2 linked regions of the Homo sapiens genome follow. The protein of the gene in region 2 purifies or fractionates together with the protein of the main gene of each other region. This does not show direct contact. Each region holds a gene or a part of one and is shown on either strand. Other genes may lie near its edges.

The links.
Region 1: the proteins of MAP2K5 (region 2) and C10orf88 purify together in Homo sapiens (affinity purification with mass spectrometry; 2 studies listed by BioGRID and IntAct, with this or other methods). This does not show direct contact.

Annotation. Positions count from the first base shown.
Region 1 is NC_000010.11:122,951,216-122,958,655, forward strand, and holds the start of C10orf88 (ATPase PAAT), read right to left. Parts: upstream 3,013-7,440; 5' UTR 2,964-3,012; coding exon 2,800-2,963; intron 1,818-2,799; coding exon 1,614-1,817; intron 812-1,613; coding exon 739-811; intron 1-738. UniProt on the Homo sapiens protein: ATPase that regulates mitochondrial ABC transporters ABCB7, ABCB8/MITOSUR and ABCB10. Regulates mitochondrial ferric concentration and heme biosynthesis and plays a role in the maintenance of mitochondrial homeostasis and cell survival.
Region 2 is NC_000015.10:67,643,682-67,650,702, forward strand, and holds part of MAP2K5 (dual specificity mitogen-activated protein kinase kinase 5), read left to right. Parts: intron 1-2,549; coding exon 2,550-2,618; intron 2,619-2,706; coding exon 2,707-2,788; intron 2,789-7,021. UniProt on the Homo sapiens protein: Acts as a scaffold for the formation of a ternary MAP3K2/MAP3K3-MAP3K5-MAPK7 signaling complex.

The sequences.
Region 1 (7,440 bases), on a different chromosome or scaffold from region 2:
ACTTCTCTAATTTTGTTCTTTTATAAATGGGTTTTTGCCATCACAGTTTATATAGTTTTTAAAAATGTTTTTTGCTCAATTTCCCAACACTTCAAAATACACAGCACTACCATATTAACAATACATTATCCAAGGTTAATAAATAGTCAAATTTTATTTTTATTATTTTTTTAGTGAGATGGGGTTTCACTCTGTTGCCCAGGTTGGTCTTGAACTCCTGGGCTTGAGCAATCCTCCCACCTCAGCCTCCTGAGTAACTGGGATTATAAACATGTACCACTGCACGTGGCTCATGGTTAAATTTTAAGAGAAAAAGTCTACTCACTGGTCACCGGGTGAAAAATTTAAAAAAAAAAAAATTTCTTAATTCAATGTTAAAAAGGGCTGATAATTTTTTAGAAAAGTAATTTCTTTGTACATGTTTACTAAGTATTTCTGAGCCTCATCTCTACTAAAAATTTAAAAAATTTGCCAGGCATGGTGGTGTATGCCTGTAGTCCCAGCTACTTGGGAGGCTGAGGTAGGAAGTTAGCTTGAGCTGGGAGATGACGTTGCAGTGAGCCATGATTGTCCCACTGCACTCCAGCCTGGGCAACAGAGCAAGATACTGTCTTGAAAAGAAAAAAAAAAGCAAGCAAGCAAGTTGGACTAATTGTATTACTAATCCAAAAGAAAACAAGCATACACAGAGTACAAAAACAACTTAGTTGTCAAATTAGTTTACAACTGACAACTTACCTTTATTTTACAAGCATGTGTGGAGGACTCCAATTTTAGATTTTTTTTATACAAAATGATCTTTTCATGTTCACTAAAAATAAAAAAGAATTAATTTTTTTTACTTACATATATTGTCACTTTTAATAGTTACACTTAAAAATAAATGTTTCCAGAACAATATTGAAATCCTAAGATTCAGTTTTCCTGGTGAGGCATGAAGAGTTGGGCTCCATAACTGAAGCACACTGCCTATGATTACATCTACCACTTACTAGGCTCAATGAGAAAATTACATTATATAACATATGTACAACCATGTAGCCAGACTGTATTTTAAAGCTCAATAAACACAGCAATTGTTTCCAACATGCAGGATATAAAACAGTTCATATTTTGTGTTAAAGACAGATTGGAGAAAAATCTTCGTAAGAAAAAAAATCACAAGTTGCGTTACAGGTTAATAAATAGGTTTATGTAGCACAGTCTTAGATCCCTCCACCATTTCTAATAGGCTTCCAAGAAGAAAATGTATTCAAAGTTCCAGACTGACTACCAAATTAACTTTCGGAAGACAGACTGCTGTGAGTTTAAGGAAAGAGACACACTTCTCAAAATTTCATTCTAATAAAACTCTTCCACTAACTAGCTATGACCTCCTACCAATTCACCTTGATTGTTAGTTCTAAATTTCAACATTTATAAAAATAACTAGGCTGATCTACACTGTCTTTTAAGATCTCTAAAGTTGTAAACTTCTATGCCTACTGGCACATTTTTATCTTCTCTCCCATAACATATGGTATCAATATCAGAGAATCAATAATTATTGCAAAAAGTGAGAAAAATCAAAACACTACTTCAGAAGAACACTTTCCCGTGTACAAGTCACACACCTGTCATCCAGGACAGTACAAACATTCTTGCCCCTACTGGTTCCACAGTACTCCTCTCCTAAGTACACTTCCATATTTCTTGCTGAACTTAAAATGCCAATAGAAGCGATTTCTTCACCTCCATCAGGGCCACACCTCAGGTAAAGGAAGCAGGGGTTTTCATCTTTGTTGTTGTGGTTTCTCTTCAAAATCACCAGATCCTGACTGAGAAGAAAATTGGTGAAAACATCACACAGTATAGTTCTCTGAACATGACTCTTCTTTTTTGAGACGGAGTCTGGCTCTGTCGCCCAGGCTGGAATGCAGTGGCTCCATCTCGGCTCACTGCACGCTCCGCCTTCCGGGTTCACGCCATTCTCCTGCCTCAGCCTCCCAAGCAGCTGGGACTACAGGCACCCGCCACCGCGCCCGGCTAATTTTTTGTATTTTTCGTAGAGACGGGGTTTCGCCGTGTTAGCCAGGATGGTCTTGATCTCCTGACGTCGTGATCCGCCCGCCTCGGCCTCCCAAAGTGCTGGGATTACAGGTGTGAGCCACCGTGCCCGGCCGGGGCTTCTTTCTTCTAACTCACTTCCACTTGCCCTTGAGGTCCAAGCACCTTCCCAAGCATCCAAGAAGCGCTCAACACAGAATTCATACGGAAATGAAGGTGTCACACATCAGGGCTTTCCCAAACTCTATTTTTTCCTCAATCAACATTCTACTCAATCCCCTGCAATTGACTCTCGGATAATTACATAAATCACTGGGCACCTACTGGGTGCAGGGCACAATGAAAGACAAAAGTGTATCTTTTTCGAAATTAAGTCGACAGCGATCATCTATAGCTGGACTTTTTACACAGCCTGTTTTGGTGGACAGGAGGTGTCTTGTTTGAGGGTAGAGGGGCGGACTGACTTTGACAGCAGCCCTGAGGGGCTATCACGCCTGATGGGGACGTTATATGAAATTCCGAGTCCGGGTCACCTTCCCCCTCTCACGCCCAGGAGCCTCGGCCCCTTCCCGGCCGGACCCACCCCCCTCCGCCCACCCCGGACGACCTCGCAGCTCCCCTCCCCAACTAGAGACCTGGTACCAACTGCTCTCCCGGATCCCGGGCTCAGACCCTCTCGCCTCCCCTCACAGCTCCCCTAGAAGCGCGGCAGTTGCCGAGCATAGCGACCCCGTCCCCGTCGGCCCGGCGCACCCTGGAGCAGGCGGTGCCAGCAGCTCCTCCCAGTCGAAGTCACCGGGGCCGAGACCGGCCCGGGTGAGGAGGAGGCTGTGGGTCAGGGCCCCGCCTGCAACATCCCAAGAAGAGGCCAGCGTGGGGCGGCGGGTGAGGCCCCCGTCCTCGGTCCGCGTCTCCATTCCGCCGCCTTCAGTCAGGCCAGCCCAGCCCCGGAACCTCTCTTCCAGTGCTTGAATTTCCGCCGGTACAGCGTGGAAATGGGCAGGCAAAGCGACTTCCGGCTCACTCCGCTTCAAGTACCCGCCGCTTCTTGCTTTGGTGGGGAGAGCAGGCACCAGAGACACGCATGCGCATGTGCCAGCTGGCCTCAGGCGCGGCGTTCAAAGTGTGCGGGGAGGAGGTCGAGAGCGGAGCATGCGCACTGGCAGACCCTTGCTCTTTCGCTGGAGACTATGCGCAGGCGCGGTGCACTGCGCGCCGGCACGAGGGTGTTTTCGACGTTGGCTGTGGGGAAACAGCAAGCGGCGTGGACGACCGTTGCTGAGCTGGTGTGGAACGTCTGTGATCAGGTAGGTGTAGTCTCGTCGCTCTACGCTGCGTGCAAGACCGACTCCTGACCTCGTTCTTTCCCAAGGGGACGCCAGGGCCTTTTCTGCTTCCATTCCGTCGGATCTGCAGCATTTGTGGCAGCTAGCGCGGCGGACGCGCTGCCGATTCGGGTTATTTTTACTTCGAATTCTCCTAGCCTCCCTCACACATATTCTCGCTTTAGAGGGGGGCTGAAGCGGATGATGGGGTTTTGGGGTTGAAGGGCATCTGTGATGGGCATTGAGCCACGCTGGCCTTCGCCGGGTGCTGTCTCAGCTGACGCCCCCTGACCCCATGTGCAACCCTCAGGCCGCAGGAACCCGGGCATCCAGGGCTGGACGCTCTAGGTGACAGAAATTTGAAATGCAAGAAAGACCCAGACACCGAAGGCAGGGGCTGCCCCATGAGATCGCTCCTCATGGCACTGGAAACAGCGAGTGGAAAGGGGGGGTCTCAGAACTCTGTTGAAGTAGAATATGAACTCAGTCTTGAAGGAACTTAAGGCTACGGATGCAGAACAGTGGGAGCAGATGGAACTTTCTAGATGCCCCACGGGATGGGACTGTATATAGTGTGCCCCCTCATCCTCCTCCTGTAGAGGCTTGTGCAGATTATTTTTCTGTCTTTTGAAAAAAGCAAACTCTGAAATTCCACTTGTCTATAATCTAGAGTTCCAAAGTTGTGTTTAAGGTGGTATCCTCTCTAGGAAATAACGTTTTTGCTCACCCATACTCTAATTTTCTTTCAGAGCTGTCTATTCTGGGTTCATGACTCAGTGCGCATTACTTTAATCTTTTTGCTTATGTTTTCGTTTGAGTTTATGTACTAGGACTTGTGCCCTCTAGCTAAAAATGAGAATAAACTTTGCATTCTGTTTACCTGTGTCAAAGCAAGAAAAATGATGACCAAATGTATTTTTCTATAAGTAATCACCAGAATGTACGTATGGTAGGTGAATTCACCAAGATTGAAAGAGAGAAATGTCACCAAAGGTCTATCATAGCAGAATTGTAAAGTCCTCGTTTGCAAAGATTTTTTTAATATTTCAGACTCATTCTAAGTTGTCCTTGTCATTATTTTTGTCCTGTATGTCCTGCTTCCTGTGGTTGTAAGTTAACTTTGATCCACATTAATACATGTGGACAATCCGAAGGAAAATAGGCTCTTCAGAAACTAATCTGCAATTTCATGAGCAATAGCAATATTATAAACTGGATTTTGACTTCCTTAAATAAAGCTGAATGTCCAGGAATCAGAAAACAAAAGATTCCTATGGTCTATCCTTTCCTTTATTTCCATACAGCCAATAAACCACCAAGTCTTCATTTTCTTAAAGAAAAATTTTCCTATCTCTGCTTCTTCTGTTTCCAAGCACTAGCTTTATCTGAACAATTCCAGGAGTTTGTCAGTAGCTTTCATTTTGATTCCTTCCATTTCAGTCTTTGCACTGCCCTCTTCTCCTTCTGGTGATCAATGTTCCTGACTGAATCAACACCTTCACTCCTTAGCATAGCATGCAGAGTCCTTTGTACTTTGAACCCTGCCTACCTTCCAGTTTCCTCTACCTAGAATGCCATTTTTTTCAATAGTAGGAAAAATCCTATTTATCATGCGAAACCAAGCTTACTTCATCCTGCTACAGAATTAAACAAATTCCTCTGTGCTACAATTACCACTTTTTTAGGTAGTATAATTCTCCTTTGATGTCAGACTTTGCCTGTTTATATATCTGTGTTCCCTACTATCTGCATGCTTGCTGAGATAGACATTATGTTGAGTACAGGTTTGTTGTATGGAATTGATAGGTTGGTGACAGCTTTTATCACATAAACTAAGAGCAGCAGAAAAAGGAAAATTAGTACATTCAATCTTAAGCTTTTTTCCAAAGCCAGGATGGTTATGGTTCAAAGCTGACTTCAATCTTAATATGATACATTATTCTTGTCATGAATTACAAGTGAGTTTTTTGCTTTACTTTTCTCTTTGAAGTAAATCAGAAAATATAGTTGGTGATATGGTTGGCTGTGTCCCCACCCAAATGTCATCTTGAATTGTGGCTCCCATAATTCCCACTTGTTGTGGGAGGGACCCCGTGGGAGATAACTGAATGGTGGGGGCAGTTTCCCCCATACTGTTCTCGTGGTAGTGAATAAGTCTTGGGAGATCTGATGGTTTTATAAGGGGAAGCGCCTTTCGCTTCGCTCTCATTCTCTCTTTCCTCTGCCTTGCTCTTCTGCCATGATTGTGAGGCCTCCCCAACCAACCACATGGAACTGTGAGTCCATTAAACCTTGTCTTTATAAATTACCCAGTATCAGGTATGTCTTTATCAGCAGCGTGAAGATGGCTAATACAGTTGGAAATTTCCCACCAGTAATGATATGCAAGAACTCAATATTTAGGAGCATATTTCAAATCTGTTTTCAGAATATGAGCCAACGCACATTTGAAAGGTACATTTTAGAAAAAAGTAACTTAGGATACTAATTTTCTTGAGCACATTCATTTAGTAATGCCACAGTTTAGATGTTTTGACTATCTTAAGTAGATTGAGTTCTTACTATATATGCCCTGCCTTTTACACAGGAGTATACTTCCCAGCAAGGTGGTTATAGGAACTTAACTTCCTTCTCAGGACCACTTGAGTTGTACCTTCTCTCCTCCTTTCCCTCTCTTCTGGTCCTTGCAGGTCCCACAGTTGCCAGGAATTCCTTCTCACCCTGCCTCAATACAGGGCCTGCAATTTTAACAGAGTGGAAAAGAACAACCTTCCTATCTTTTTCTCCCAACTTCATTTATAGCTGCTTTCTACCTCATTTTAACTAGAACCTCTGTTCTAGTTAGAAACATTGTTAGACTGTATATCATTTTCAATACAACCTTTCTGAGGAAATGTAGAAATGCTGCAGAAGCTCTCGAACTAGAGCTGAATCTGTGCCCGCATCCATGATTATCACCTGTATGACGCTTTCTTATCCTAAAACTCTTATGCAATAGTCGATGGCCATACCACCCTGAACATGCCCAATCTTGTCTAAAACTGTTATGCAATAAAGGGTTAACTCAGGAAGTCTGGGAGGTTCAAACCCTGCAGCTTCCAAAGAAGTTGGCTCTTGACCAGCTCTGGGAAGATGACCGCTAACCTATTGGAATGTCCTGCCTGATAAGAGTGTCTTTGTATACCTAGCTAGCTTATATCAACAGTGTGATTTATATAGTAAGGCCACACTTGAGACACACTCTGTCAGTTTGATCTCTGGAGCTCAATTTTAAATAATTATTTAAAATTAAATAAATAATACTCTATACCTATCTAGATACAAAGAAAGGTTTTTCAGGGTGAGGTAGGTGGGAATCACATAACCATATCTTGCTGCTAACTGTGGGCTTTATAACAGAGTTCCTTAACACTTCGGTTTCAGAACCCTTTTACACCTTTATAGCTTTCTAATTAAAAAATCAACAACATTGTTCTTGAGTCTGTAGTAACGTACACTAATAGGAATGAGTACTTAAAGAATGGATTGAAAAGATAACCACTGGGTCCCTCCCACAACAAGTGGGAATTATGGGAGCTACAATTCAAGATGACATTTGGGTGGGGACATAGCCAAACCATATCACCAACTATATTTTATGGTTTATTTAAAAGGGAAAAAGGAAAAATCCACTCCAGCTTCAGGACACCTGGCTTAAAATAAACTTTCTTAATGGACCCATTTCGTAAAAATGGTTTTATCCTGTTTCCTTGGGAACTTGGCAATAACTTAGAGGGTTTTAGAGTCTTAAAGGAAGGTCTGGGTGAATAAACTCTTTTTTTATGTTAACAAAGGAAAATAGCATCCAAGCTAAATCAGCTGTAGGATTTGTTATGTTTCGTTATGCATTCATGGCACTTGCACCTTCAGAAGAAGTAACTCATCAAAAATTCTGCATAATATGCTGTCAACTCATTTGTAATATTGCACGTTTCCTACAGAAATAATCCATCTTTGTGCAGAATGATAGAATTTTGAGGTAAGTTTATTAACATCCCTTCAGGAATATGTTGTACTGTTGGGTTGCAGG
Region 2 (7,021 bases):
GTGATCTGCCCGCCTCAGCCTCCTCCCAAAGTGCTGGGATTACAGGCGTGAGCCACCGCGCCCAGCTGCAAACTCTTGATAGAAACCACCTATGCCTTTTTTTTCCCCACCTTCCGCTTCCCCAAATCAACGCCTGGCCAATGTCAGGACTATAAAATGTACTTTAGAATTGTCCTTTTCTTTCCTTGCTCTATTAGCAGTTTATAATGCATAACTTATGCTTTTTTCTTCAGTATGATTGTATATATATTCTTCAGTTGTAATACAAAATGTAATTCAAAGTTGAATGCTACATAACTACACTATCATAGTAATTCTGAATGTTAAGTTTTTATCTAGAAATGTCTAGAGCCAGAAACTCTGCCACAAATCATAAAAATTGTTTTCCACCTATTCTATTCTCATCACTGCCTTTTAAAAGTAAAAAACAAGCTGGGCACGGTGGCTCACGCCTGTAATCCCAGCACTTTGGGAGGCTGAGGCAGGTGGATCACCTGAGGTCAGGAATTCGAGACCAGCCTGGCCAACATGGTGAAACCCTGTCTGCGCTAAAAATAGAAAAATCAACCGGGTGTGGTGGCAGGTGCCTGTAATCCCAGCTACTTGGGAGGCTGAGGCAGGAGAATGGCTTGAACCCGGGAGGCGGAGGTTGCAGTGAGCCAAGATCGCGCCACTACACTCCAGCCTGGGTGACAGGGCAGGACTCCATCTCTAAATAAATAAATAAATAAATAAAACAATTACTCTTGAATTAGTTTCACTGACATGCTTAGTAGAATTTGAACAGTATGGTCTTCTTTCTTAAAAAAATATGTGTTTGAAATAAACTAGAATTTATTCTAGATAAGTTTATAAATATTTTATATTTATGGGTTATAAATCACTGTGGGTAATATCACTCAGTGATTGATATTTTAAATAAACCATAAAGTACTGAAAAGCCCATGAGACTGAGTCCAGAGGAGGGGGTCCTACCATTCCCAGGCTCTGTGGCTCCCAGGAGGGAAACGTGGTTTCCTCCTCACTCAAAAGAAGGGAGTTAATGAAATAAGATTTCTTCAAGCTTTAACTTTCTGTAACAGGATTAGCAAAGAACATTACCTGACTGGAAAAAAAAAAGATGATATATTTTTAAAATTCCTTATTTCTCTCATAACTAAAAACCCCACTTAAAATGTTATTTTTGGCTGGGCATGGTGGCTTACGCTTGTAATCCCAGAACTTTGGGAGGCTGAGGTGAGCGGATCATTGAGGTCAGGAGTTCAAGACCAGCCTGGCCAACATGGTGAAACCCCATCTCTACTAAAAATACAAAAATTAGCCAGGTGTGGTGGCAGACACCTGTAATCCCAGCTACTCAGGAGGCTGAGACACGAGAATCGCTTGAGCCCATGAGACAGAGGTTGCTTGAACCCAGGAGACAGAGGTTGCAGTAAGCCGAGATCATGCCACTGCACTCCAGCCTGGGTAACAGAGCAAGACTCTGTCTCAAGAAAAGAAAAAAGTTATTTTTTGGCCAGTTGTGATGGCTCATGCCTGTAATCCCAGTGCTTTGGGAGGCTGAGGTGGGCAGATTGCTTGAGCTCAGGAGTTCGAGACCAGCCTGAGCAACATAGTGAAACCCCCATCTCTACCAAAAATGCAAAAAATTAGCTGGGTATGGTGGCACACCTGTGGTCCCAGCTACTTGGGTGGCTGAGGTGGGAGGTTTGTTTAAGTCTGGGAGGCAGAGATTGCAGTGAACCAAGATCGCCCCACTGCACTCCAGCCTGGGTGACAGCATGAGACTGTGTCTCTAAATAAATAAATAAAATGTCATTTTTATTCATCATCCTCTCTGCTTATTGCCTAGTGTCTGATCACAAACCACAAGATAGTTCTTTTTTTTAAGAGACAGGATTTCTCTCTTTCACCCAGGTGGGAGTGCAGAGGTGCAGTCATGGCTCACTTCAGCCTCAAATTCCTGAGCTCAAGTGATCCTCCCACCTCAGCCTCCCAAGTAGATTGGGACCACCCGATCATACTACACACAGGTAATTTTTTTTTTTTTTTGTAGAGATGGGTTCTCGCTATGGTGCTTAGACTGGCCATATACCCCTGGCCTTCAGGTACCCTTCCACCTCAGCCTCCCTTCCAGAGTGCTGGGATTACAGGTGTGTGCCACTGCACGTAGCCAACATAATTCTTTTATATTGGTTTGAGGGTCATTCCTATGCTCCTCTTTTGAAAATAGCCAATGTGGCTAAAATAGAGTGCATAAATTAAGAGTGTTATAACTTAACTGACTTTTAAAGCCATTACTATTGACCTTTGAGACCTGGCTTTTTTCTTTGGTCCCATCAATCACTTCTGTACCACCTCCCCCAGTATAGAAGGACAAAAGGTTAGACAGATGCAGATACAGCTTGTATTACTGGGAATTATAGTGGTAAGAAGAAGGAGGTGGGGAAGAATAAAGGAACTACCATGTTTTTAGTTCTTATATTTCATAGTGATTATAACTAATATAATTAGAAGATTAAAAAATATTAATACCTTTCTATATTTAGGTCATACTACTAGATATTACACTGGAACTTCAGAAGCAAATTATGTCTGAATTGGAAATTCTTTATAAGGTAATTTTTTCATAATTTTTATTTGTAAAGCATGCCTATGGTATTGACTTGCAGGTTTATAACTACTTTTGTCTTATTTTTGTTACAGTGCGATTCATCATATATCATTGGATTTTATGGAGCATTTTTTGTAGAAAACAGGATTTCAATATGTACAGAATTCATGGATGGTGAGTTTTCCCTTTTATAATACTTTTAAAATGATTTTTAGAGTATATAGTGCTTTAAAACCTGGTTTTGATATAGATATCAAATAGAATTAAAGATAATAAAATATGCTAATAATTACCTCATTTATACTCTAAGATTATTTCAGTGTTAGGGGTTCCTGGGGTTAAATATTTATAGCCGAACTGTAATTTTAAGAATTGAACTTCACTTTTATTGAAAATTTAAATAGAACAGATTAAATGCTAGTCTAATTGGTGGTTTGATATTTGATTCTTTTGCACAATCTGTCTTTACTTGCAAAACAGATGTTCTGTTCTTTTAATGTTTCAATAGCCAAAACAGATTTTCTTTTAAAGAAATCTATTAACCCAATGTCCTGTGTCTTTCAGAAAGAAATCGGTTCTTAATTGCAAGATAAGAAATTGTTTTTCAACACAGCTGTTTAGCCAAGATGTGTTTAATTTTCTTTGGACTTTAGCCCTTTCCTTCCCTCTCTATTTTTTTATTCATTTCTATTTTGGTAGTTCTTTCTTGACCTGAATATTACGGCAAAATACAGATTTCTAGGGACATATCAGTGAAATGATGTCATCATTATTATTATTTACCAATTTTAAATCTAAGCAGTCTTTAAATTTTACATATTCAGTTTTCCATAGTCTAGTCCATTAAAACACAACTTAAGAAAATATTGTTAGTTCCTTGTGGAGATTCTCAGTACATTACTAAAGCAATTAGTTTGTGCCCTGCAAAACTTTAATGAGCCAACATTGGTACCTTGATACTGTCATAAGGTGTACAACATGCTCTAAATTAGTTATAGTAGAATGTCAAAAATTAAAAATCTTACAGCCATATAGGTAAGTATGGTAACTGTGGAGACTGACCAGAAAAAGTGGATTCATTGAGCCAGTACATGTTACTGTGTTGTAACTTTTATCATTCTTTCTTTGAAGTCTTCAATTTTTCAGTTCTACTCAAACATTTTTGTTGAAACAGGGCACGGTGGTTCACGCATGTAATCCCAGCACTTTGGGAGACTAAGGTGGGAAGATTGCTTGAGCCCAGGAGTTTGAGACCAGCATAAGCAATATAGTGAGATCTCATCTTTACAAAAAAATTTTTAAAAATATGGCCGGGCACGGTGGCTTACTCCTGTAATCCTAGCACTTTGGGAGGCCGAGGCAAGCGGAGTTTGAGACCAGCCTAACCAACATGGCGAAAACCCGTCTCTATAGAAAATACAAAAATTAGCCAGGTGTGGTAGCGCATACCTGTAGTCTCAGCTACTTGGGAGGCTGAGACTGAGAATTGCTTGAACCTGGGAGGTGGAGGTTGCAGTGAACCAAGATCGCGCCACTGCACTCCACCCTGGGTGACAAAGTGAGACTCTGTCTTAAAAAAAATAAAAAAAGGAAAATTAGCTAAGCATGGTGGTACGGGCCTGTAGTCTCAGTTACTCTGGGGGCTGAGGTGGGAGGATTGCTTGAGCCCAGGAGATTAAGCCTGTAGTGAGCTGTGATCGTGCCACTGCACTCCAGTCTAGGCAACAGAGTGAGACCCTGTATCAAAAAACAAATAAATTAAAATTTTTTATTGAAATATAACTCAGATACCATAAAATTCACCCTTTAAAAGTGTACAATTCCATGGTTTTTGATATACTCACAAGGTTGTGTAGTCATCACCACTGTATAATTCCAAAACACTTTTTACCACCCCCAGAAAGAGACTTCCTACCTATTAGTACTCACTCTCTACTTTCTCTTTCCTCAAGTCCTTGGCAACCACTGATTTATCTTCTGTCTCTATGGATTTACCTATTCTGGACATTCCATATAAATGGAATCTGATAATATATGGCCTTTGTGTCTGGCTTCCTTTACTTAGTATAATGTTTTCAGTGTTCATCCATACTATTGCATATATGAGAACTTCATTCCTTTTTATTGCTGAATAACATTTCGTTGTATGGCTATACTACATTTTGTTTATTCTTTCATTAGTTGATGGACATTTGGGATAGTTCTACTTTATGCATAATTATGAATAATGCTACTCTATATATTTGTGTACAAGTTTTTGTGTGGACATACGTTTTCAGTTCTTTTTTTTTTTTTGAAACAGAGTCTCGCTCTGTCGCCTAGGCTGGAGTGCAGTGGGGTGATCTCGGCTCACTGCAACCTCCACTGCAACCTCCACCTCCTGGGTTCAAGCGATTCTCCTGCCTCAGCCTCCCGAGTAGCTGGGACTACAGGCGCGTGCCACCATGCCCAGCTAAGTTTTGTATTTTCAGTAGAGACAGAGTTTCACTGTGTTAGGATGGTCTCGATCTCCTGACCTCGTGATCTCCCCGCCTTGGCCTCCCGAGGTGCTGGGATTACAGGTGTGAGCCACTGCACCCGGTCAGTGTTTTCAGTTCTTTTGGGTATATACCTAGGAGTAAAGTTGCTAGGTCATATGGTAGCTTTATGTTTAACTTTTTAATAAACTACCAAACTTTTCCAATCTGTTTTACACCACTTTGCATTCATACCAGCACTGTATAAGGTTCCATTTTCTTCATATTTTTGCCAATACTTGTCATTTTGTGTCTTTTTAAAATTGTGGGCTTGTAGTGTGACATGGTATCCCATTTTGGTTTTGATTTAGGTTTCTCTAATGACTAATGATGTTGAGCATCTTTTCATGTGCTTATTGGCCATTTGTATACCTTCTTTTGAGAAATATGTTTTCAAATCCTTTGTCTATTTTTTAAATGAGTTATTGGGCTTTTATTGTTGAGTTGTGAGAATTCTTTATGTATTCTAATACTTGGCTCTTATCAGATATGGGATTTCCAAATATTTTCACTTATTGTTTATCTTTTCACTTTCTTTTTTCTTTTCTTTTCCTTTTTTTGAGCTGCGGTCTCATTATGTTGCCCAGGCTAGTTTTGAACTCCTGGGCTCAAGTGATCCTCCCACCTCAGCCTCAAGTTTTATTGTTTTAGCTTTTATATTTAAGCCTTTGATTTATTTTTGAGTTAATTTTTATATATGGTATGAGATAGGGGTCCAAATTTATTCGTTTGCATGTAGATATACATTTGTTCCAGTACCGTTTGTTAAAGACTGTTTTTCCCATTGAATTTTCTTGTTATACTTGTTGAAAATTGACCATAACATATATTTCTGTACTTTCAGATCAATGCGTATACATCTCGCATTGATCTAGTTGTCTATCTTTGTACCAGTACCACACCATATTTGATTACTTGTACTTGAAAACTCTGGATTATTATAGTTTTTAAGTTTCAAATCGAGAAGTGTAAGTGCTCCAACTTTGTTCTTTTCAAGATTGTTTTGGCCATTTTGAATACCTAGCATTTTCATTTGAATTTTAGAATCAGCTTGGCAATTTCTCCAAAAAAATCCAGCTGGGATTTTGATAAGAATTGAATTGAATTTTTAGATCAACTTGGGGAATATTGCTGTCTTAACATTATTTAATCTTCCACTCCGTGAACACAGATGTCTTTCAACTTACTTAGGTCTTCTTTAATTGTTTTTCAATGATTTAAAAATAATTTTTAGGGTATAAGTGGTAACTATTTGTTAAATTTGCTTCTAAGTTTTTTTAATGCTGTTTTTCTTAATTTCATTTTTGGATTGTTCATTGCCAGTGTATAGAACTGTAATTGATTTTTGTATATTGATCTTGTATTCTGCAACCTTGCTGAACTTGTTTACTAATGTTAATAGCTTTTTGTGGATTCCTTAGGGTTCTCTATATACAAGATAATGCCATCTGCAAATAGAGGTAGTTTTAGTGCTTTCTTTTCAATTCTGAATGTCTTTTATTTCCTTTTCTTGCTTAATTACCCTGGCTAGAACCTTCAGTACAATGTTGAATAGACTGATGAGAGCAGACATCCTTCTCTTGTTCCTGACCTTAGAGGGAGAGCTTTCAGTCTTTCACCATTAAATATGATGTTAGCCATGGGTTTGGAATAGTTGTCCTTTGTCAGGTTGAGGAAATTCCTTTCTATTTCTAGTTTGTTGAGTTTTTTTTTTTTTTAATTATGAAAGGGTATTAAATTTTGTCAAATGCCTGTTTTATATCTATTGAAATAATCGTGCATATTTGGTCCTTTATTCTATTAATATATGGTATACTATATTAATTGATTTTTGCAAAATGAACCAGTCTTGCAGTGTTGGAATTATTCCACTTAGTCATGATGTGTAATT